4 linked regions of the Homo sapiens genome follow. The protein of the gene in region 2 interacts with the protein of the main gene of each other region in a pairwise test. Each region holds a gene or a part of one and is shown on either strand. Other genes may lie near its edges.

What was found.
Region 1: the proteins of SYNGR1 (region 2) and ADORA2A interact in binary tests that used the Homo sapiens proteins (3 or more experiments, as listed by UniProt).
Region 3: the proteins of SYNGR1 (region 2) and UNC93A interact in binary tests that used the Homo sapiens proteins (3 or more experiments, as listed by UniProt).
Region 4: the proteins of SYNGR1 (region 2) and SPNS3 interact in binary tests that used the Homo sapiens proteins (3 or more experiments, as listed by UniProt).

Annotation. Positions count from the first base shown.
Region 1 is NC_000022.11:24,430,595-24,437,628, reverse strand, and holds part of ADORA2A (adenosine receptor A2a), read right to left. Parts: intron 6,733-7,034; exon of another isoform or gene 6,067-6,732; intron 5,382-6,066; exon of another isoform or gene 5,195-5,381; intron 5,009-5,194; exon of another isoform or gene 4,903-5,008; intron 4,499-4,902; 5' UTR 4,225-4,498; coding exon 3,893-4,224; intron 1-3,892. UniProt on the Homo sapiens protein: Receptor for adenosine. The activity of this receptor is mediated by G proteins which activate adenylyl cyclase.
Region 2 is NC_000022.11:39,352,976-39,360,009, reverse strand, and holds part of SYNGR1 (synaptogyrin-1), read right to left. Parts: intron 1-7,034. UniProt on the Homo sapiens protein: May play a role in regulated exocytosis. Modulates the localization of synaptophysin/SYP into synaptic-like microvesicles and may therefore play a role in synaptic-like microvesicle formation and/or maturation.
Region 3 is NC_000006.12:167,286,459-167,294,330, reverse strand, and holds the start of UNC93A (protein unc-93 homolog A), read right to left. Parts: upstream 3,017-7,872; 5' UTR 2,842-3,016; coding exon 2,755-2,841; intron 1-2,754.
Region 4 is NC_000017.11:4,485,917-4,488,715, forward strand, and holds the end of SPNS3 (protein spinster homolog 3), read left to right. Parts: intron 1-207; exon of another isoform or gene 208-311; coding exon 312-410; exon of another isoform or gene 411-495; coding exon 496-667; intron 668-1,889; coding exon 1,890-1,978; 3' UTR 1,979-2,288; downstream 2,289-2,799. UniProt on the Homo sapiens protein: Sphingolipid transporter.

The sequences.
Region 1 (7,034 bases), about 15 Mb from region 2:
GGGGTATGGAGGACAACTTTCTACTATACTATACTCTTTTGTTCCTTTTTAATGTTTTAGAGTGGGCAAAACATGACTTTTTTTTTTCTTAAATTGCAAATAGACTAAGTTTATTCAAAAGAAATCTCCATAGGCTGAGAGCCCTGGACCCTGGTGCCCACGGGGTGGGGACAGCATCAGGGCCCAAATGGAATCACAGCTGAGCCTCAGCCAGGCCCAGCAGCATATCCTGGGCTGCATCTGTGACCAACACACTCACATCTTGCCGTCTTAGACCCCAAACATTGACCATCCAGCTGGAAGGGATGCCAAGGCTGTCTAGCGTGACACACCACCACTCTGGGGTGCCCAGGCATGTCAGAGAATGTGGGTCCCAGAGCTGCTGCCCACCCTTTGTGGAGGTGCCCTCTGCAGCTCTGTGTCCCCCGGCTTGCAGGCTGCCCCTTTCTGGGGATCTCCATTACCCACACTGGGGGCTCACCCTATGGTCCAAGAATATGCCCCATGATTCCAGCTGGGGCTTTATGTGCACATGTCCCAACCTGAGGAGTAGGTGGAGCCTTCCTAAGTTGTCCAAAGGAGTCATTGATCCAAGAATTGAAGAGCCATGGACCCACAGGGAAACCTCCATTCCTTCCCCTGGTACGAACAGGCCTGACTTGGCCTCCACCTTTCCTGCCCACTCTGTTCATCTCTCTCTGTCACTAGGCAGCCAGGCCACCCTTCCCTACCCAGTGCTCACATGCTCATTCCTTCCTCAGGGTCTTGTCCCAGGCTTTGCCCCCCTCCTGACACACCTGCCCCCACACTCATGCCAGTGAGACCCTGCCTGCCCGTCCTGCAAGACCCACTGGGTGACACCTCCTCCAGGGAGCCCTCTCTCCCAATCCTGCCCTCTTAGAAGTGTTAGGACTTCGGGCCTCACCACCAGCTGCCACCTGCACCTTGGCCTGTTCCTCAAACCAGCGAGAACATCCACCAAGGGCTGCTGTGAGAGCCAGGGAGGGGACAGTGAGGCAAAAATCCCCTGGGAACTGGAAAAAGAAGCCTGTGTCTCTCACCCTGAATTCCCTATCCTCTGGGAACACAGAGAGCTACATCTCTGCCTCTGGCCTGAAGTCTTTCTCACAGAGTTCCTCGACTAGGCCCTGTGCTAGCCCAACAGGTTCCCTGAACTTGGAAAATAACAGATTTTTCCAAAACTGAGTTCTTTTTTTTAAAAAAAAAGTTAATGGAGAGTGGGGCAGGCCTGAGGCTAGACCCAGGGCTAGCCGAATGGACCTTTCTGAGTGGAGCAGGAAACGGCACGTAGAGGAGGCTGGATTCCCAGCTGAGAAAGGAGGAGGGAGGATCCTGAGGCAGGCTGTGACTCCAGCGCCGGCCAGGAGTGTCACCAAGTTCCTTTCATACCCCGCTTGCTCTCGGGAGCCCACATGGACACCTCCACATGCCCAGAGGCCCAGGGGCCCTGAGGAACAGGAAAGCGAAGGGACCTGCGGGCCAGGAACAGCCTGAAGGGCCCTGGAGTCCATCCACATCAGGAGACACTCGTATGTCCTTCCCTGCTCTGGCCTCCCCATGAGTTTGTGAGTAACAGGAGGGTCAGAACATCCGCCTGGCCACAATGCAGGCCAAGAGGATGACAGGAGATGCTGAGCTGACATCCTTTGGCAACTGCAAAGCTCTCTGCCCTCAAGGGAGGATGAACATCATCGTCGTCATCCTCTCCAGGGCCCCCTGCAGAAGAGACCAGCCTAAGCCTTGCAGAGCCTCATGGAGCAGAGTCAAATGGCTCAAGGTCTGGGTGGAACTAAGGTCCAGCTCCAAGGAAGTTGGGATGAGATGGGTAGAGGATAGGGGGCAGGTCCATGGCTCTGAACCCAAAGATCTGAATCCCCACCCTCCCCACGCCTCCAACCCTCCTCAGGGTCCCTGTCACCCCATCCACTCACTGGACCTTCAGAACACCTTTGTGAGCTCAGAGGGGCAGAGAGACTTGTCCTATTTTATGGATGAGGAAATGGGCCCAGAGAGAGGCAGCTAACTTTCCATAGCCACACAGCACATCCTGTCCTACTACATAGGGAGTCATTCTCTCAACTCTCAGAAAACAGAGAAGGAAAGGGAGAGACAAAAGAGAAAAAAAGTCGAGCTCCTTTAAATTGAGAACGGCAGCCCTGATCATACCCTTTGAATCAGAGAAAAAAGTGAGAGCTTGGCCTCTGCTTCCCCATAGAGCATCCCATCAGTGTGCAGACTCAGCTTGGTTCCCTGAAGTCCCCTCCAGTGCTTTGTTCTCTGGCCCACCTGGGCACCTGCAGACAGGGCCCCTCCTGGGCCTCCGTGTTCTGAGCTGCCACTGGACGAACCTAAACTCTGCTCTGCCCGTCGCAGAGCAATGGATGGAGGCTCACCAGAGACTGCACTTGGAGTCCGACAATCCCTAATTCCACCCCTCTCAGGGCTGGCCAGGGTCCCCTTCTCCTTTGCCGAGGGTTCTAGACTCTCCTGGGATAGAGAGCATCTGACAGGGCAGTGTGAGGTCCAGATTCCTCCCCTTCCCTGGAGCAGCCCAGTGCAGCTCCTGCTCCCACTTAGAGCCCAGGTGACAGGGACAGCCACCTGGTGCAGGCTCTGCGAGACAGGCTGCTCATGACCGCTCCCCAGTGACTGAAGTCACAGTGGGGATCAGGCCACATTTCTTTCCAGGACTCGCCCCAGCTCCACTACCAACTCGTTGTGTGGCCCGGAAACAGCTGGCTGTCTTCTCTGAGGCTCATTTTCCATCCCGAAGATGAGAGGAAATGACCTCTAAGGGCCCCTTGGCTTTGACGCTCTAAATTTCCATTTGCTCATCTAGCTGGGTCCTCCTTCCTGCTGGGGCACCCTCAACCTGCTGTGGCTTCCTCTTTAGATAGGCACCCACCAGTTTCAGATAATTCACCGCAGAGATGGTGCACCCTGCTCCCTGACTCTCAAGAGGCACCACCTCAAGCCTCATACATGGCCTCAGGGCCCACAACCACCCAGGCTGTGGAACCCAGCTCTGTGGCAGAGGGGCCAGGAGGTGGGGCAGAAGGCCTCTGACGTCCCCAAGGGAGGGATGCACTTTCTAGCCTCATCTATGGCCTGGGTAGGTGGAATCCATGCCGAGTAATTCAGCCTCTGGGAAAATCTTCATTTGCACAATTACTTGGCTGAAGTCACTTCACAAAAGATTCACCATAAAAATCCCCTCCAACAGCCAGCCCCTGAGCACACTGGCTGCCTCTAAGACGATGAGTCCTTGGTGACTTGAGGAGCAACAGAATTTGCATATAGGTCCAAGTGACTCACTGTGGCATTCAACCAAGTCACTTCCCCTCTCTGGGTCATTTTCCTAATGTGCACACTGCAAGGCTGGCCCAGAGGATCTGGGGGAAGGCAGGTGGCGGGCGGCTCCTAACTCTGAGGTCCTATGGTTTCCCCTGGCTCCCCACTCCACCCCAGCATCATCCGGGAAGTTTTGCTTGTGTGTGAGGAATGGCCCAGACACACCCGCTGGCAGCACGTGGGTCACTGGGACCACAGCTCCCTGCTAAGCCCAATGCCAGACCCTGGCCACACTCATCTGCCAAAAAGCAGAGCACAGTTGGCCTCAGGCAGCCTAGGGGAACCCAGGCCGCCTGGGAGGGCCAGGCTGCCCTGCGCCCATAGGGGTCAGTCAGTTCGGCATGACTGCTGGCCACGTGCTGGCCCTGGGGAGCCCCTGCTGAGCCTGGGGCCCCGTCGCCAGCTCACCATGCTGACACTGCAGACCAGGCCCTGATCCCAGGCTCACCCTGGCTCCGGGCACAGACCAAAGCCTGGGCACCAACAGCCTTTGCACAGATGTAACCCCGGCCCTGCTCACCGGAGCGGGATGCGGATGGCAATGTAGCGGTCAATGGCGATGGCCAGGAGACTGAAGATGGAGCTCTGCGTGAGGACCAGGACGAAGCAGGCAATGAAGAGGCAGCCGTGGCAGGCAGCGCAGAACCCGGTGCTGATGGTGATGGCAAAGGGGATGGCGAGCACACCCACTGCGATGTCGGCCGCCGCCAGTGACACCACAAAGTAGTTGGTGACGTTCTGCAGGTTGCTGTTGAGCCACACGGCCCAGCACACCAGCACATTGCCCAGGATGGCCAGCACAGCAATGGCCAGCTCCACCGTGATGTACACCGAGGAGCCCATGATGGGCATGGCCACAGACGACAGGCAGGCTCAGCACGGACGCGGGCTGGGCCAGCTCACGGTCCATTGCTGCAGCCCAGCCGCCCGCCTGGCTCCCAGCCCGGCCCAGGCGGAGGGGCCCAGACCCCTGAGCCCCTTCCTCACAGGAGCCAAGTGCAGCCCTGCTGGGGCGCTCTCCAAGGGCTTTTTCACAGAGGACTCTGAGTCTCCTGAAACCAGGCCCTCTGCAGGGGTTCTGGCAGCAGCATCATGGCTCAGCCCAGCTTCAGGGTTCCTGAGGCACCTGCAAAGGGACAGCCGATGAGAAGCTGAACCATCTGCAGAGGGCGAGCCCTGCGGAAAGTGCCACCCCTTACCCCACACTTGGCCCCCTGAAGACCCTATAGTTTCAGATCCCACCCTACCCACAGGCCAGGTGTCAGCCTGAGGATGGCCCCTGACCCCGCCTAGCCCCATGCCCTGCCTGGTCTGCTGTGGTCATAGCCAGGAGGCGAGAGAGGTGGGAATTTGACCCTCACTTTAGAGGAGGACACCCAGAGAAGTCACTGAGCAAGGCTGGTTCCCCTGGTCCAATAGAATTCCCGCTGAGACTCCCACACAAACCCCTCCCAAGGAGGCAGCCCCTTCTCCCAGGCTCTGCAGAATGAGTACTGCCCTAGCTGGGCCCCTGCCAGGACTCCAGCTCACCCCAGCACTATCCATGGCTCCCTGCATTCCCTGCTCTGCGCATTGTTGTCACGGTGCCTCCCACTCTGGACTCAGGGCCAAGGATCAGATGTGGTCTGTTTTTTTCCTGGGGGAGCCAGAAACTTGTTAAAGTCTGTCAGTGTTGGCCCCCCCATGCTCAGCCTCTCAGGCCTCCTGTGGCAGCTTGGCCAGTCTCCTGGGTCCTGGATCTCGGCCAGCCCCATGACACTCCCTCCCAGAAAGGCCCCTCCCTGCCCAGGCTCTCCCAGTCCCACCCACCTTCTCTCGCCAGGCCAACTTCTCAGCCCCCCTGGCCTGCTCCATCCCGTCAACTCTCCCAGGAACTACCAGCACCCACCTAAGGGACACCAGCCGCCCTGTGAAAGGACAAGCCAGAGACCCCTGGAGCTCGGATGTGGAAGGATGTGGGGAGCTGCCTGGTCCTGTCTCCCACTGCCGCAGAGGGTAAGCCCTCTCATACTGCGCCCGAACCCGCTGCCTCCAGGTGCCCCTGCCAGTCAGCTGCAGTCAGGGCAGGGGCGGCGCTGCAGCTGACTGTGAGCTTCCACTCGGAGGGAGCTGCCTCACCTCCCTCCTCCCACGCCCTCTCCCCCACCTGCTCCTCTGCCTGGCTGACACCAGGAATGACTAACGGGAGTTTGGTCCCTGGCAGAAAGCAGGTACGGAACCAGGACTCACTGAGGGACTCTGGGCAAAAATGCTTTTCTTTTCTGGGCCTCAGTTTCCTCATTGATACGGTGAGGCAGCTGGACCCCAAATGACCTCTAGGGGCCATGCCAGCTCTCACCCATGATTCTATGAGAAGGAAATAAACAGATTTAAAATGGCTCCCCCAGAGTCAAAATGGAATTACTGACACCCCTCAGAAGCAGAAGTTTTGGTTCCCCAGCAGGCCTGAGCCCAGCCCCAACTCCCAGTGTCCCCTTCGAGCCTGTGAATGGTCTGGATCCAAATGGACCTCTGCCCGTTAAATTGCCCCTCTTTGAGAGCTAAGAGGCCCCCAAATCTACCCCCTCCAATCCTGAACCCTCATGGGGCCCTATGAGTGTGTTGCCAGCCGCCACCACCTGCCTGGGGACAAGAGGTCAGAGGCTGCCTTTCACGTGGACTCGGGCAGCCACCTCGTCTCTCTCTCTCTTCCAGGACATGAGGGATGGAGCAGGACTGGCAACCTGGAGAGGAAGTCACTCCTGGTCCTGAGCCCTGTTCAAAGGGCCAGGCTCCCCTCTACCCCATTGTCCATGTGACAGAGCTCAAACACACAGACCCCAACTTTCCCTCCAACTCCAATGCTGTCGGCACCTCAAGTGGCTGGAACAGGATTGGCACGGGCTGCAGCCATACCTGGGACTGGAGGTTCTCCTGCACCCAGCAGGCCCTTTTGCCCCTACTAGGAGCCTGGGAATGGAGCATTGACACAGAAGCAGGAGGAGGAAGGAGAGAGCAGAGCCAGAAACCCTGCAGCAACGGAGGGCCTGCAGCAGCTGGAGAGGGCCGAGTCCTCCCAAGCCCCTGCTTTCCATGGAGCACTTGCCAGGCAGCCATTCACAAAGTGTGTCGTTGGCAGGGATGCACCAGACCAGCTCTCCTGGCACCATCCCTGGCCACACTCAAGGAACACAGTTATCCCTGATGCTCTTGGCCTCTCTCCCTGAGCAGTACTCACCAGGGCCCACCTGACTCACGATAGCCCCTGCCCAACAGGTACAAGTGGAGCTGGTGCTGGCCCCGGGCTGCCTCCCACCCAGGTGCCTGGCCTGTGGCTCCAAGGTGGACTCCCAGGCCCAGCACCACCAGCAGCAGCAACAGGCGACTGTCCAGTGAGGCCCAGTGGGCCACTGAGGAGCCGCCTCTACCCAGGGATCCTGCCTCCCACCACGGCCCTCTCTAGGGCATCTGCATTGAAGGATGCCACAGCCTTCTGCCAATCTGACCATCCCAGGCTAGAAGGCTGATGCAGCCCCAGACCACGCTCCAGATTCAAGGGCCTTGCTGGGGGCAAACAAGGTGGAACATAACACGTCTGCCAAAGTGAAGGAGGACTCCCCAGTCCCATCACCCAGAGCCCTGCTGGTGGGGTCAAATCATCGGCGCCTGCCTCACGGGCTGGA
Region 2 (7,034 bases):
GGAGACAGGAGGGACCAAGGGGTGGTGAGGGCCAGTGCACAGGGGAAGATCAGTGGTTCAGAGGCCCCAGGCCCAAGGATCTAGGATCAGGGGAGGGAGAGGGAGATGGAAAGGTAGGAGGGTTGGAGGAGACGCCTGGATGGAGGATCAGGGAGTGCGAGAGGCTACTGGGAAGGCAGGGCCAGGCCTAGCTAGGGTCCAGCTGGTGACAGTTGGCTGAGGCTGGCGGACAAGACCATGCGGGAAGAGGAGGCCAGGTGTGGAAAGGGTCACAGAAATAGACACTCCAATGACCAGGACTGGAGCAGGAGCAGTGCTGGAGAGGACTGACACCAAGCTAGGGTGGGCATCTTTTTTTTTTTTTTTTTTTTTTTTTTTTGAGACAGAGTCTCACTTTGTTGCCCAGGCTGGAGTGCGGTGGCGCGATCTTGGCTTACTGCAAGCTCCGCCTCCCAGGTTCACGCCATTCTCCTGCCTCAGCCTCCCGGGTAGCTGGGACTACAGGCCCCCGCCACCACACCCGGCTAATTTTTTTGTATTTTTTTTTTTTTTAGTAGAGACGGGGTTTCACTGTCTCAGCCAGGATGGTCTTGATCTCCTGACCTTGTGATCCGCCTGCCTTGGCCTCCCAAAATGCTAGGATTACAGGCGTGAGCCACCGTGCCCGGCCTGGGGGGGCATCTTTGAAGAACGGGCAAAGTGGCCTCGAGCTGGCTCATCATGAAGGGGAGTGGGCGACCCAGTGCTGGTGTGAGATTCAAAGCTGGGGGACAATGTCCTGTAAGTGGCCTCAGGAACCAGAAGGACCCTGTCGACCTCTACACCCAGCAGAGGGAGGGTCTGAGGGATAAAGCAGCCCCCACTGAACAGGCTGCAGGAAGCAAGGTCTGGGGCAGGCCAGGTTACAGTGCAATTTACAAAAGGTGTCAGGGACATTCTGGGAGGGGCTGAAGGCTCAGGGACTCTTGCCCCCTGCACTGTGAGGTACTGGAGGAGCCCCAACTTGTTAAAGCTCCTGCATGATTGCAGCTTGGGTTTGACAGCTTGGGGCTGTCCCAGCTACGCAGCCGCCCCTCTCTCCAGGTCCCCTTCACCTGGCCCCTGCTCCACCAGCAGCGGGGAGATGAGCAAAACTCTATCTGTGAAGGGACGTTTGTCCCAGAAACACAGGGCATGACTGCCCTTCCAGGCTCCAGCTGATGCCGTCTGCTCTGCTCTTGTGTCCGGAATTGGTGGGTTCTTGGTCTCACTGACTTCAAGAATGAAGCCGCGGACCCTCTCGGTGAGTGTTACAGCTCTTAAGGTGGTGCGTCTGGAGTTCGTTCCTTCTGATGTTCGGATGTGTCCGGAGTTTCATCCTTCTGGTGGGTTCGTGGTCTTGCTGGCTCAGGAGTGAAGCTACAGACCTTCGCGGTGAGTGTTACAGCTCTTAATGCCGCGCGTCTGGAGTTGTTCGTTCCTCCCGGTGGGCTCGTGGTCTCGCTGGCTTCAGGAATGAAGCTGCAGACCTTCGCGGTGAGTGTTACAGCTCATAAAAGTAGTGTGGACCCAAAGAGTGAGCAGTAGCAAAATTTATCGCAACGAGCAGACGAACAAAGCTTTGGAACTGAGCAGGTTGCCAATGCAAGCTCGGGCAGCCTGCTTTTATTCTCTTATCTGGCCCCACCCACATCCTGCTGATTGGTAGAGCCGAGTGGCCTGTTTTGACAGGGCGCTGATTGGTGCGTTTACAATCCCTGAGCTAGATACAAAGGTTCTCCACGTCCCCATCAGATTAGTTAGATACAGAGTTTGGACACACAGGTTCTCCAAGGCCCCACCAGAGCAGCTAGATACAGAGTGTCGATTGGTGCACTCACAAACCTTGAGCTAAACACAGGGTGCTGATTGGTGTATTTACAATCCCTGAGCTAGACATAAAGACTCTCCACGTCCCCACCAGACTCAGGAGCCCAGCTGGCTTCACCTAGTGGATCCCGCACCGGGGCTGCAGGTGGAGCTGCCTGCCACTCCCGCGCCGTGCGCTCGCACTCCTCAGCCCTTGGGTGGTCGATGGGACTAGGCGCCGTGGAGCAGGGGGTGGTGCTCATCGGGGAGGCTCGGGCCGCACAGGAGCCCATGGAGTGGGTGGGAGGCTTAGGCATGGCGGGCTGCAGGTCCCGAGCCCTGCCCCGAGGGAAGGCAGCTAAGGCTCAGTGAGAAATCGAGCGCAGCGCCGGTGGGCTTGCACTGCTGAGGGACCCAGTACACCCTCCGCAGCCGCTGGCCCGGGCGCTAAGTCCCTCATTGCCCGGGGCCAGCAGGGCTGGCCGGCTGCTCCGAGGGCGGGGCCCGCCAAGCCCACGCCCGGGTCCGGGGCCAGCAGGGCTGGCCGGCTGCTCCGAGGGCGGGGCCCGCCAAGCCCACGCCCACCCGGAACTCCAGCTGGCCCGCAAGCGCCGCACGCAGCCCCGGTTCCCGCTCGCGCCTCTCCCTCCACACCTCCCTGCAAGCTGAGGGAGTGGGCTCTAGCCTTGGCCAGCCCAGAAAGGGGCTCCCACAGTGCAGTGGTGGGCTGAAGGGCTCCTCAAATGCCGCCAAAGTAGGAGCCCAGGCAGAGGAGGAGCCGAGAGCAAGTGAGGGCTGTGAGGACAGCATGCTGTCACCTCTCACTCCCATGCATAGACCTGGGGCCCAGTGCCCCCTCTGCTGCAGGCTCCTACAAAGCATGAGGGGATGGCTCCAAACATCACTTTTTTTTTTTTTGAAACAGAGTCTTGCTCTGTTGCCTGGCTGGAATGCAGTGGTGGGATCTTGGCTCACTGCAACCTCCGCCTCCTGGGTTCAGGCGATTCTCGTGCCTCAGCCTCTGGAGTAGCTGGGATTACAAGCATAATCCTAGGCACCACCACACCCGGCTAATTTGTGTATTTTTAGTAAAGGCAGGGTTTCACCATGTTGGTCAGGCTGGTCTCAAACTCCTGACCTCAAGTGAGTCAACCACCTTGGCCTCCCAAAGTGCTGGGATTACAAGTGTGAGCCATCGCGCCTGGCCCCAACATCACTTCTTTAAAGACTGACCAATCCAAAGTTCCCAACCTGGAGTCCACTAGGAGCAAGAGTGGGGTTCTTCAAGGGTGGAAAGGTCGGGATCCACCAGAGCAATCCAACTATCCTTTTCCCATTTGATAGATGGGGAAACCAAGGCCAGGAGAGCATGGGCCTCTTGCTCCAGTCACACAGCCAATCACTGGCAGAGAGGGTGCAGAACGCAGCCTCAGGTCTCCAGGCCAAGGCACTCCTCTGCGCCTACCCTGCCTCCCCTCCCACCTGACAGCTGGTTCTTCCGGTCTGGGTGCCAAGTGTGGCTCCCTCCAACAGCCCTGCCATCTGCCTCTCCCTTCCTCCCTCCCTCCTCCTCCTGGCTTCTCCTCCTCTCTTCCCTTCCTCTCCCAGCCTCTGTTTTTTCTCCCTGGGGCTCAGGCCCGCCCAACAGCTTTGCACACGCTGCTCATGTGGGACTCCCCACATGGCTGGGGACTCCCTGGAGCAGGGGCCATGGGTTCCGATCCCAGTGACTCCAGTTAACCTCTCTGGGCCTCAGCTTTTCATCTAAGGAGGGGATAACAAAACGCACCACAGCAGACTTACGGCAGGCCTTTTAAACTTGCATTCAGGCCAGGCAAGATGGCTCACACCTGTAATCCCAGCACTTTGGGAGGCCGGGGCAGGCGGATCACTTGAGGTCAGGAGTTTGAGACCAGCCTGGCCAACATGATGAAACCCTGTCTCTACTAAAAATATAAAAATTAGCCGGGTGTGGTGGCGGACATCTACTCAGGAGTCTGAGGCAGGAGAATCGCTTGAATTTGGAAGGTGGAGGCTGCAGTGAGCTGAGATCGTGCCACTGCATTCCAACTTGGGTGACAGAGCGAGACCCTGTCTCAAAAACAAACAAACAAAAATAACTTGCATTTTCTTTTCCTTTCTTTCTTTTTCTTTTCTTTTTTTGAAATGGAGTTTCACTCTTTTAGCCCAGGCTGGAGTGCGATGGCGCAATCTCGGCTCACTGCAACCTCCACCTCTCGGGCTTAAGCGATACTCATGCCTCAGCCTCCCAAGTAGCTGGGACTACAGACGCGTGCCACCACGCCTGGCTAATTTTTTGTAATTTTAGTAGAGATAGGGTTTCGCTATGTTGGCCAGGCTGGTCTCGAACTCCTGACCTCAGGTGATCCACCTGCCTCTGCCTCCCAAAGTGTTGGGCTTACAGGCATGAGCCTCCACACCTGGCCAAAATTTGCATTTTTATAAACTCTCGAGGCCTCCCCAAACCCAGGCCCTCCAATCCCATGTTACAGATGAGGCAACCAAGGCTGAAAGAGGTAGGGGTTTTCCAAGGTCCCGCTCTGATGGCCCTGCTCCTGATGCCCTAGGCTTTCTCAGGCTCTTGAGGCCGCCCCTGGGCTGTCCCTGGACATGAGGAAGTGCCCAAAACACAGCAGAAATCTATCACCTCCCAGCGGTCTCCTTGCAGCTGACCCTGTCCTAGACCTGAGAGAGAAGAAGCGGCGGAGCGGCCGGCCACAGGAGGTGAAGAGGTGAGAAAGACTCCAGGGTGGTCAGCAATAAATAACAAACAAGGGCCGTGGGCCCACCTTCCTGTCTAGGTGACAGGGCTGTGCCCGGTACTGGGAGAGGACAGGCTGGACGTGACCACGCATTTCCAGCCACAGAGCCCTCTCCAAACCAAGCTTCCACAGGAGCTTCCGAAATACCCTTGACCCTCTCTCCAGCTTCCCACTGCCCTCAGAGGAAGTCCAGCTTGTGAGTCTGTCATCCAAGCCTCTCCTGGGCCACCCCTTGGGAATTCCTTCTTGTAGTGACCCGAGCCTCTGGGACAGTGCTTCCCACTCAATCCTGTTCTCGTTATTGGAGCGAGAGTGCCTTGGGGTGGCACTGAGCACTCAGCTGGCACTGAGCAGGGGACTTGTGGAATGAACAAATGAACATCAGAACTGGCCAGAGGTTCTGTCTCTACCCTGGACCCTCTTCCCCAACAACCGCTGGTCCCAGAATTTTCCTGTGGCCCCATGGCTGGCACATGGCAAGTTGGTTGGGGGAGGCAAGGGGTCTTATCTTGAAACTGCTGTGTTTACAAAAAACGTTCAGCTTTTTTTTTTTTTTATTTGAGACAGAGTTTTGCTTTTGTTGCCCAGGCTGGAGTGCAGTGGTGTGATCTCAGCTAACTGCAACCTCCGCCTCCCGGGTTCAAGCGATTCTCCTGCCTCAGCCTCCTGAGTAGCTGGGATAACAGGCGACCGCCACCACGCTCAGCTAATTTTTGTATTTTAGTAGAGATGGGGTTTCACCATGTTGGCCAGGATGGTCTCGAACTCCTGACCTCAAGTGATCCACCCGCCTTGGCCTCCCAAAGTGCTGGGATTATAGGCGTGAGCCACCTCACCTGGCCAAGTTCAGCTTTTTTATTCAGTGTTCACTTGGGATGATGGGGGGTGGAGTGGAGGGGGTGAATAAAACCAGGGGTATGAAGCTGCCCCCCTCAGGCCACCCCTTGGTGCCATGGATATCCAGGCAGAGAACCCACAGGGAGTACACAGAATGTGGAGCCCAGCAGTCCGGGTTCAAACCAAGTCTCTGACAAGCCCAGGCCTTGAGCTAGCACAAGTCACTTCTCCAGGCTGAGCCTTAATTCTGTCATTTGTAAAACGGGGGGAAGATACCCACCCCACTTACAGAACCATGTGGTATTATGGCCAAAGCCCTTAAAAAATGAACCCTGAAAATGGCAACATTTCAAACATTTTATCATTTTCATTTTGTCAAAGTAGAGAATTAAAGAAACATTGACTGGGCACGGTGGCTCACACCTGTAATCCCAGCACTTTGGGAGGCTGAGGCGGGTGGATCACTAGGTCAGGAGTTTGAGACCAGCCTGGCCAAGATGGTGAAACCCCGTCTCTACTAAAAATTTAAAAAGTAGCTGGGCATGGTGGTGGGTGCCTGTAATCCCAGCTATTTGGGAGGCTGAGGCAGGAGAATCACTTGAAACCAGGAGGCAGAGGTTGCAGTGAGCCAAGATCGCGCCACTGCACTCTAGCCTGGAGACAGAGCGAGACTCCATCTCAAAAACAAAAAACAAACAAACAAAAAACTCATCTGCCAGCACTGATATTCATTCCCTATAGTCCATCTTAGCCCCCTGCAAAAAAGAATATAAACTCCAAATAAAAGGTGGTCCTTTCTATTAAATCAGTTTAGCTTCTTGCTGTAACTCCTTTTTTTCCCATCTGGCTTTAGAACAAAGAAATGAGTCACTGACAGGCGGCAGTCACCGCGCAACAGATCAGGCACTTCTGACCCAGCCCAGCCCAGTTCGGGTGGGAAGACTGAGGCACAGAGGGTGGGGAGGGGACACTTACTGAAGGTCACAGCTGTGGCCTGGGGGTGCCAGGAGTGGCAGCTGATCTGCCACTGGGGCGATGACACCAAGAGGTGAGAAAGCCTTAGTCAAGAGACAAGCCATGCCGGATGCAGTGGCCCACGCCTCGCCTCATCGTCCCAGCTGCTCACAAGGCTGAGGTGGGAGGATCACTTGAGTCCAGGAGTCTGAGACCAGCCTGGGCAACACAGCAAGATCCTGTCTCTAAAAAAATAAAAAAGAGACAAGCCAGGTCTTGGAGGCCCTGCTTCTGTGCAGGCTGACCCAGGGGCTCAGAGGGCTTGGGTTCCAGGGTGGGTCCAGGTTGGTGAGGCCCTGAAGCTTACATGATTTGGGGGCCCTCTTTTGGAAAAGCAACAGAAAAAAAAATCTTTCTTTTACAAATTTTACAAAAATCCCAGGTCCAGGCCGGGTGCGGTGGCTCACGCCTGTAATCCCAGCACGTTGGGAGGCCAAGGCAGGTGGATCACCTGAGGTCAGGAGTTCGAGACCAGCCTGGCTAACATGGTGAAACCCCATCTCTACTAAAAATACAAAAATTAGCTGGGCGTGGTGGTGTGTGCCTGTAGTCCCAGCTACTTGGGAGGCCGAG
Region 3 (7,872 bases), on a different chromosome or scaffold from region 2:
AGCAGTTAGTGTGTCTAAACATCAGGGAGTGAAGGCCCGGCACCCCTGTGAGTGCTTGCGCCGGGGCTGGATGGCTGTGAGAGCCGCTCACGCCTCTGTGGACACCTGCCTGAATCTCAGCTGAGAACAGGACAGTGTGACAGGATGGGGCTGGAGACTCTGCCAGAACTCATCTGTGAGGAGCCTGCGTGCTCCCAGGGAATGTAAGGGGTCCTTCAGCCCATGGGGAGGCCCGAAGGATATGAAGCAGCTGAGTGCACATGAATGATTTCTTCCTTCACCAAATATCCATCGCCCGCCTCCGAGTGCCCGTCACTGTCTAAGGTTTGAGAATGGACCAGGGACGTGGCCCTCGTATCCTGGAAACTGCAGGCCGCCACCACTGGTGGAGACAACCCGGGCAGGCACACACCGCCACGAGGGTGCTGGGTGCCCCATCCAGACCTCAGCTCCAGGGCAGGGTGGGGAGAAGGAGGTGACCTCCAAGTTGAGAGCTGAATGAGAACTTGGAGGCCTGCAGCCAGAAAGGGTGAAAGGAGGTGGTGGCTACAGGGGGAGGTGCCACAAAAGAGCGTCCTTTGTCCTTGGACGAGGGGACCTAGTCCAGACCAGGGTGAGGACTCAGGAGAACTCTCTGGAATGAGGCCCTGTCTTCTCACTGGGGCTGCTGAGCTCTGAGGAGGGAGCCTGGGGATGCATGTGCCTTGTTGGGGCCTGAGAGCGAAGCCAACCCCATAGTAGCCTTGGGGTTCTTGGAGAGAGGTGGGCTCGGCTCCTCAGCATGCTGGGGCAAAACCAATCCTGAGTCACTTCTATCTGAACACTCTGTGTTGCCCATGCCAGTCCTGAGTAGCAGAGACAGCTGTCCCAGTTAGAGGGTTAAAGCACGTCCGCATGCTCAAGGTCAGCTGCCGACAATAGGCCCGGGTGGGGCCTCGAACCAGGGTGGAGCTGGAGTGGAGGGGACCCTTCCACAGTCCTGGGGCCCTGCAGAGAGGGAGGTCTGGCTCCCCTGCATCTCCAGTCTTTTGAGAAGGAAGGGCTGACATCATGAGACAGCAGCTCCCACTTCCACCAGCCCAGGAGGAGTGGGAAGTGCTGGCGGGGCGTGGGACAATCTACTCCCCAGGCAGCTGCTCACAGCTGCGGAGCTCATCCAGATGCCACCATGAGTGATTCCCCAATGAGGCACCCCCAAACTGGGGCTGAAGAGGCAAAGGGTTGTCTGCCCGCATTTGCCCACAGCCTTGGGTCCTGCCGTCACAGCCTGAGAGGAGGGACCCCTGGCAGCTCCCAGCCCCCTCCAGCCCCCTTCCTCTGGCTTCCAAGTCCAGAGGCCAATTTTCAGACAGTGGCTGAGCCACAGCGGATCCACCAGAACTGGTTCCTAGGAATGCTGACCCCAGGGGAGCTGTCGGTTCCTAGGAATGCTGACCCCAGGGGAGCTGCTGTGCCAGGAGGACAGCAGGGTCTCCTTCTGCAGGCAGGTGAGCTTTCTAAAGAGAAAGGGCTACTGACCAGTCCACATCCTTGAGACTCCCTCCTTCCAGAAAGTGCACACCAACCACATTCAACATGCACTCACCTCAACCCAACAGGCATTTCACTCACACCAGCATTCTGTGACAACAACACAAAGTTCTGGGCAAAGCAGGGACTCCAAAAGTAATGAACCATTGCGGCAAGAAAAGAGACTGTGTTCCCTTCCACTTGACTTTGAGAGTCACTGTTGGCTGCCATTTTATCCTCTGTAAGCCTGATCAGAAATAGAACCAGATAGGAGTTCAGCAAAAGGAAACATTACTTGAGAATTCAGGACTGAATTCCAGCTTCCTTGGCAACCCAGGAGTCCCAAGTGTTTGCACAACAACAGTGAGAGGAGAAACCTCGGATTCTGAGTTCCCAGGTGTGCTTTTCTGGTTCCATACTATGCACACAGTAGGTGCCCAATTCTTATTCTTCATTGACGAACCATGTAAGACCACACTAATTTGTCATCAGAAGCTCTGAAATGTTTTATGTGACCACACCAGGCCACAGGGTACAACACTGTGGCAATGAATAAGCCGGGGGAGTAACAATAGCCCTGCTTCCTGACCAGCCCTTGGAATTCCCTGGAATTCAGACTGGAATCCAGGTAAAGATCAGACTTGAAATGTAACCAGCTTGGGAAAATGTGTCAGGTCTATGTCTAGGTGCACATGATGAATGCTGCAGCCTTTCGGAGAATGCCGTTTGGCTTTTTCATGGGCTCACGGAACTATGGAGGAGAGCATGCCATAAGGAGTTCAAAGTATAGAGAGATCATGTTGTCAAAGTTCACAGTTTAGCTTAGAGTAGGCTTGGAATGTATAAGGTCTAGTGACATTTGATAAATTCACATGGCTGCCCCTAACCACAAAGCCAAGGGCATCCAATCAATCATAGAATTCACAATGACTTTTCCTGTGTCTCCTTTTAACCACCCAAAGGCAAAGAATGTCCCAACAAATCACAGTCCCAAGACCCCTGCTGTCCTTGTCCAAGAGCAACGTGCACCTCGCTGTTGTGCAATCCTATTGAGACGTGAGTGGGAACTGCTCACTGTAGGACTGCATCTGAGAACCACTGTTTGTTTTAGAGGATTTGGTACAGAGTGAAAAAGAAACACCAGGTGAATTAGATTTTTCAAATTTCCAATTCATTATTGTCTGTGACCACAGGGATTCTTGGAGGCCAAGAAGTTCAGGTAATTTGATGACCGGACACACATACCTGCAGGCTCTGCAGACCTCCATAGGCTGTAAAGAGAAGCAGGAACCCAAAGGAAACCACAAGGACGTTCCTTAGACTTCTGTCCATTGTGCTGGATGAAAAGATCAATCACCAGTGAACACGTAAATTTGTAGCTCCCTAAAAGAAACCAATTGAGGCATGGGAAAAACAATCAGTACCAAGAAGTCCCATTCTCTCTCTCATCTGAGCTAGAGGTGAAATGTTAGAGGTGTGTTAGTCATTAAGACTGTCACTCGTTAATGAACTTGGTTATCACTGACCCCATGAAGCATACGGGAGCTCTGTTACTCATTTACCTTCTCTGTGATCCACAATGTCCACTTTGTATGGGGCAAAAGATCATTACTCTTACCAGCTTCTAGTTAATTGCGCTTTTTTCCTATTAAATTCTAATAGACATGGTCCAGATGGTAAAGTGATATGTTTCACTTTTTATGTGTATATAGAATAGAACCTTCCACAGTAAGAGAAACTGTCAGAAGTTGTCAGTGGTGCAGAATGAGGACTTCAGTCTTAAAGAACAAAGCATAAATGTCAACTTCAAGACACATAGTTCAACTTCTGAAAAAGAGCTAACGTGATTGTAAGATCCTGGGGCCAAAGTCTTAGTATTGCAAAGACTGTACAGTTTCACAACACAGTACAGCAATTATTAAAAGAAAAAACAACTTACATGAGTATAGTACTTTACAATATGCAAAGAATTTCATGCATTATTTCATGTTACCAACAATAGTGCTATGCTAATGATCATTAGAAATCTTAGACCCATTATAAGACAGGAAACAGCTTCAGAAAAGTTAAATGATTTGGTATTTTGGTCTGGGGCAGTGTTGTCCAGTATGGTAGCCACTCGCCACATGTGACTATTGAGTTCTGAAATGTGGCAAGTGCAACTGATAAAATGAGTTCACAACTGCATCTCCTTTTAGTTAATTACAATTAAAATTTAACCACATGTGGCTAGAGACAACTGTATTAGACGGGGTAAGTCTGGAGCTTTAAGCAACTTACCACAAATGTCATAGCTAATAAGCAAGAAAAATTATTTTTATTCAATTATAAGTAAAACTTGATGTCTGCAGATTGTTTCCAAAGTTCTGTGAAGTCAGCCATTTCTGTCTAGATTAGATCTATAAGGCAAATCTCGCAGGTAAGTCTAGCATCCTGGCAACACTACTCAGGGAAGCTTGCCAGACCATCAGAAGATCAGGGCCAATGATAAATGGGGTAAAGTTCTTGTCACTTAATGTATTTCAGTGAAAATGAAAGTTTTATGAAAACAATAGCTTTTTATATTAACTAAACATGGACTATCATGCTTACATAGACATAAGAGCCACGCAGTCTAGCAAAGGGATTCTGAGCATGGAAACAGATGAGCTCCACGGGTTCACACCCTAATCCTGTAATTTGTTAGCTAGGTGATCTCAGGTGGGTCACTGAGTCACCGAACCTGTTTCCTCTTTAAAAAGGAGGGTTGCAAAAGTTCAAGACTTGGATAATTTTGAAAGCCCCTAGAACAGCACCCGATATATAGCAAAAATGTTAACTTCAAGATACATATATGGTTCAACTTCACCAATAAATGTTATCACCAATAAATGTTAATTGACTAAGATGATATTTTGACTTTCAGAGACAATACAAATTAGAATAATATGTAAAGAAATTAGCATAATGTGGACTTCTTCATACTAACCGTGTTATCGATCAATCAACTTGGACCTTATTTTTATTTTTTGGCAACACTTTAGTTTACTTCAGTTCTGGCCTCTCATTAGTTCCCATGGATGACCTGTATTTTGATATTAGAGGACCTTCCTGATGTTTTATTGCACTGTCTGCTGGTCTTTCTCCCTTGGTTGCTTCAACTCACCAGCCCCATCCTCTAGGACTCGCTCTCTGGCTCTGGGGGCTGTTTCCAGAGGCTGCTCTTCCCCTCCCCTTCACCAGCCTATGCCTTCTAAGGAGCTTCCCTTTGTGCACAAATAAACCTGGTCTGTTTCCATCCTTCCCAGCCACACCCTCCCTGTCCCTCCAGCACTTCTACTAGGATTGAATTTCTGAAACCATGGCTTCAGTTACGTCTGCTTTTTCTCTCTTTTCCTCCCAGTTCCTCCCCTTTATCTATGTTAAAAGGGATTTTTTTTAAATGAACAGTATATTTCACTCTCTGCCTTTTCTCTGTAGCAGAATAAAATGCTTCTCTTAGAGGAGATAATTCCCAGCACCCCTCAGTGTTCCTGTGACCAGGGCAGGTCTTAGACATGGTCCCCCAGTGGTCTCGTCATAAACAAAGGGACACTCTTATCTTACCCGACCCCTGAGGCTGCCTTCCCGCAGCCTACACATTCCTGCAGACATGGAGTTGCCTGAGGGAAGAGAGTGCAACCTCTAGAAACCCAGAGCTGGCTTGGCTCTCAGAGCTGGTTTTGGCGTTATGAGCTCTGTGTGTGCACTGGAGCCATGGCCTGGCCCAGGGCTGACCTGCCAAAGGCCAAAGACGGGTACGTGTAAAGGATTTAAAAGGTGTCAATAGCCACTTCAGTCCTTAAAATTAACATCTGGGCTCTATCAGCTTGAGAAAAGAGGTGGTTCTGTAGATCTGCTCGAATCTGCAGGTCACTCATTGGACGTTAAAATGACAGATGCCCTGGGTGATACAAAGCTCAGAGCACGCGTGTTCCGGAAAACCGAGACTTCACCAGCCACTAGATGGCACCGTTTTGCTACGGCTGAGTTCACCACAGGCGCCATGCGTTCTTCATGCTGTAGAATCACCTTGTAAATCACCAAACTTCCTGCCAAGAATCTAAAGATTAATTTAAGGGAAGTCTACCCAATGGTTTGCTTTTTTAAGGAATGTACTCATGTAAGCAAATTAATATCAATTTTCTTGACATTTACATCTGAAATCTTTGTTAATAAAAGCAATACCAAATAAACTCAAATGTATCTTACATCTTTTTATCCACATAAAGATGAAGAAGGTATCTATAGGGAGTAGAATGAGTTCTTGGCTACTTTAGGGAATTTCACACTTTGGAAATAAATGTACTCATGCTGTGTGTGTGTGTGTGTGTGTGTGTGTGTGTGTGTGTGTAAGGAAGAACAATTTGTGCTAACACAACCATGGCTTGAGAGAGTATTTTCTCTTAGCAAATGTTCCAAAGCATCTTAAATCTTGGCGGGGGCTGACCACTCCGCCTTCCCCTGGCTAGACAGGCCACCTCCTGAGCTGAGCGGGCATTCGGGGCTCTGGCTTCTTCCTCGGCCAAGGAGAACCCAGAGAGCCAATCAGAGAAAAAGCTTTGGGGCCAGTTGGCTATGTCAGGCCCTCAGCCAAGACCCTTAGCTAATTTCCATTACTTATCAGAGAGGGCAGAGACCCATCGTGTGGCAAGCCTGGCTGGAAATACTCCCATCCTCACACCATTTGTGAATCCTCCCAGCTTCCACGGTGTGGTTAAAGCTGCTGGTGATGTCCTGGGATTCTGGGTCTTTCTCTCAGCCCACGTCTCCACCTGGGACATGTGAGTGGCCTGACCACCCAGCCAAGACCGTCAAGGGCCTGCAGGGTCCCTGAACAACAGCATCTGATTGGGCTAAGGCACCCTCATTTTGCACCAGAATGAAGGAGAGCAGCAGCTCTGTGATTGATCACCGTCTTCCACTCTCCCTGTCAGGGCGGCAACGCTAGGTGAGCCCGAGTGCGGAGAATCTGGCCTGTTCCACTCTCATAGTCAGGGGGATCGTGTAGGTCCTGGTTCAGAACACACTCATGTGCACAGTGCACACACACACACACACGCATGCACACACGCATGCACACACACACATATGCACACACATGCACACACACACACACCCTTTTTATTTTCCAAGTTCGTAGGTCCTTTTCCTTTCCCATGAGCCCTCTGCAGCCTGGGATACAGCACCCACTTCTACAGTCGTCCACACTATTTATTGAGCGTCTACCCTGGGCCAGGCATCCTTCCTAATGTACTGGGGTACCACACTGATAAAAGGGCCAGGGGTCTCCATTCTCACAGAAGCCTAGTTCTAGTGGAGGAACCAAACAGTGAACAACTAAGCAAAATAGAGAACTGAAATTCCCATGGAGAGAAGAAGTGCGATCCCAAAACTAGAGCAGGTGGGACGATAGGGAGTATGGGGTGGTACACACGCTATCCACACCCCATCTCCACACGGGCGGCAGAGCAGTGTCCAGCTTTGGAGAGAGCAGCTCGGCTGGACCCAAGCATCACCAGGTCTGCAGCTCAGCAGCCGTTTCTATGAACCCTGCAAACTGGAGCAAGTGGCACTTTGGGTGGAAAAGATCCAGCTGAGTGCAGCGAGCAGTGGAGGAAGCCGGGCTGTGATTGGACAGCTGAGGGCCAAGTATGGCTATGATTGGACAGCTGAGAGCCAAATACGGCTGTGATTGGATAGCCGAGGAAGCCGGGCTGTGATTGTACAGCCGAGAGCCAACCACTTACATGTCTTCTAAGCCTGGATGAGGGGCAGAAAGTGCTGATTATGCTGGAATTTTTTTTTTTTTTTTTTTTTTTTTTTGAGACAGAGTCTTGCTCTGTCGCCCAGGCTGGAGTGCAGTGGCGCGATCTTGGCTCACTGCAACATCCGCCTCCCGGGTTCAAGCAATTCTCCTGCCTCAGCCTCCCGAGTAGCTGGGATTACAGGCACCCGCCACCACACCCAGCTAATTTTTTGTATTTCAGTAGAGACGGGGTTTCACCGTGTTGCCCAGGCTGGTCACGAACTCTTGAGCTCAGGCAATCCGCCCGCCTCGGCCTCCCAAAGTGCTGGGATTAAAGACTTGAGCCACAGCACCCGGCTGATGCTTGAATTTTCTAGGTATTTTTTCTATCAATTATTTTTGTCTATACAGACAAAGATACAGTGATGGGAAATTACGCCCAAAAATCTCCAAAGATAATTTCGTGCCTTTGCTCTCACAACCACAAACATCCATACAATTTGAACTTTGTCCCCAAGCGAGATAATGCCATCCTGGGTGACGTGACCTATTTGCAGTCCCTTCGCTCCAGCCGCTATTGCAGCGCGTGGCTTCTA
Region 4 (2,799 bases), on a different chromosome or scaffold from region 2:
ACACCCCAGCCTCATTCACTGTGGTCACATGCATGCCTGGTTCCTTCCCAGTTCAAGAGCAAACTCTCAAGAGGGGTGGCCCTGATCAGGGGCCTTGGCACCCCCATCCTGGGGCACTGGGGAAGCTTCAGATGGGCTTGATGTCTTGATGTTCTGGGGTGGGACTTTAGACCTTGGGGACCGTCGACTCCCTCCCATCCCACTCACCTGAATGGCCTGTCACTCCTCCAGGCAGGTCCTTGGCAGGTGGGGAACAGCAGGCAAGGGTGCCCTCACTTGGGGTGCCCCCCTGCTGTGCCTATGTTTTGCAGTCTGTGGTGGTGCCCAGATGCCGGGGGACGGCAGAGGCACTTCAGATCACGGTGGGCCACATCCTGGGAGACGCTGGCAGCCCCTATCTCACAGGACTTGTAAGACGTGTCTGCGTGTGTGGGGTGGGGAGGGTCTGGGGGCCAGGCTGGTGGGCCTGGCAGACTCATCCCTTCTCCTCCGCAGATCTCTAGTGTCCTGCGGGCCAGGCGCCCTGACTCCTATCTGCAGCGCTTCCGCAGCCTGCAGCAGAGCTTCCTGTGCTGCGCCTTTGTCATCGCCCTGGGGGGCGGCTGCTTCCTGCTGACTGCGCTGTACCTGGAGAGAGACGAGACCCGGGCCTGGCAGCCTGTCACAGGTACCCTACCCATTGCACCAGGCCCGGCTCAGGGCCGGCACCCTAGGGACAGACAGCACTGGCCACCCCCTGAATCCCTGGCCAGTTTGTTTGTTCATTCATCCAGAAATGCTTAGTACACCCCTGCTATGTACCAGGGAAGGTTGCAGATGCTGGGGAGTGAAAGAATGAGGCCAAGTCCAGGCCCCTGTAGAAACTGACACTGTAGTTGGTGAAGACAGACCAGAAACAGAAAAGGTTAAAGATATAGCATGTTCAGGGTGACGAGTGCTATGGAGAGGTATAAAGCAGGAAAGGAAGGAGAAAGGGGCCGGGCGCGGTGGCTCACACCTGTAATCCCAGTACTTGGGGAGGCCAAGGCGGGCGGATTACAAGGTTAGGAGTTCAAGACCAGCCTGGGCAACATGGTGAAGCCCTGTCTCTACTAAAAATATAAAAATTAGCCAGGTGCGGTGGCACACACCTGTAGTCCCAGCTACTCAGGAGGCTGAGGCAGGAGAATCACTTGAACCCGGGAGGCGGAGGCTATAGTGAGCTGAGATCTCGCCACTGCACTCCAGCCTGGGCGACAGCAAGACTGTCTCAAAAAAAAAAAAAAAAAAAAAAAAGGGACAGGTAGGTGCAGGCTGCAAGGATCCCCACTGCACAGGCGAAACTAGAGCAAAGATCTGGAGGAAACGAGGGAGTGAGCCGTTCAGCGACCTGGGGAAAGACGCTTCCGGCAGTGGGGACAATCAATGCAAAGGCCCTGCCATGGGAATGCACCTGATATGTTTGAGGATCAGCAAGGAGGCCAGTGTGGCTGCAGCAGAAGCAAGAGGGACAGTGGTAGGGGTGAGGGATACGGGGCCAGAGCAGGCAGTCCTTGTAAAGACAGTGGCTTTTGCTCAGAGTGAGACGGGAGCTGCTGTGGGGCTTCCAGGAGAGGAGCACCGAGGTGGTCTGATTGATGTTGCCAAAGCATCTCCCTGGCTGCTGTGTTGAGAACAGACTGTAGGAGGGTCAGTGTTGAGGCCGAGAGGCATAGCCGACTCCCCTTCCAGGGGAGAGTGGTGCCTAGACCACGCCAGTGGCATTGAAGGTGATGACAAGGGGTTGGATCTGGAATGTATTCTGCATTTGGGACAGAGAGGATTTCCTGACAGCCCGTGCCCAGGCCCAGGCCTGGTCCCAAAGCACCTTCTGCAACCTTCGGGCAGGCTGAGCATCTTTCCTCCTGCAGGGACCCCAGACAGCAATGATGTGGACAGCAACGACCTGGAGAGACAAGGCCTACTTTCGGGCGCTGGCGCCTCTACAGAGGAGCCCTGAGGTCCCTGCCTACACTCGTCCTGCCTGCAAGCCTCCCGTTGGTCCCCACAGCAGCAGTGCCTCGGTTCCTCTTTGGCTGTCCTCGGGGACTCCGGCTGAGGCACATCTGCCACTTTTGAATTCCCGGCTGGAGAGCTGGCAGGACCCTGTGGCTGGGCTGGGAATGGAGCTGTCAGCACTCTGCGTGGGAGGCCTGGGCCTGTGCCTGCATCCCGCTCAAGGCTGCCCCAGCCTGGGGTCTCCAGCCTGGCTGCTGCTGGGCCCTGAATAAAGAGAGGCCAGTACAAAGCCCATGGATTTTGGGCCTGTAGACAGCCGTGTTATTTATAGCCTCTCGTGCCTCTGCTGGAGGGGAAGTGGGTGAGGACGGGATGGGCAGTCCAGGCCAAGGATGCAGGGCTGTCCTGAAGTGGGGAAGCTGGGGGGCTGGCTCAGCATGGGTCTCTAGGGGTCCGCAGCCTGGACCTCCCACTCTGACCCAGCTTCTCCATTCTGCAAAGTCACAGGCACAGGACACCCTCTACGTGATTCCACTCTTTGTTTTGTTTTGTTTTTGAGATGGAGTTTAGCTCTTGTCCAGGCTGGAGTGCAGTGGCGCAATCTCGGCTCATTGCAACCTCCGCCTCCCAGGTTCAAGAGATTCTTCTGCCTCAGCCTCCTAAGTAGCTGGGATTACAGGCATGTGCCACCACGCCCAACTAATTTTTGTATTTTTAGTAGAGACAGGGTTTCACCATGTTGGCCAGGCTGGTCTTGACCTCCTGACCTTAGGTGATCCGCCAGCCTCGGCCTTCCGAAGTGCTGAGATTATAGGCATGAGC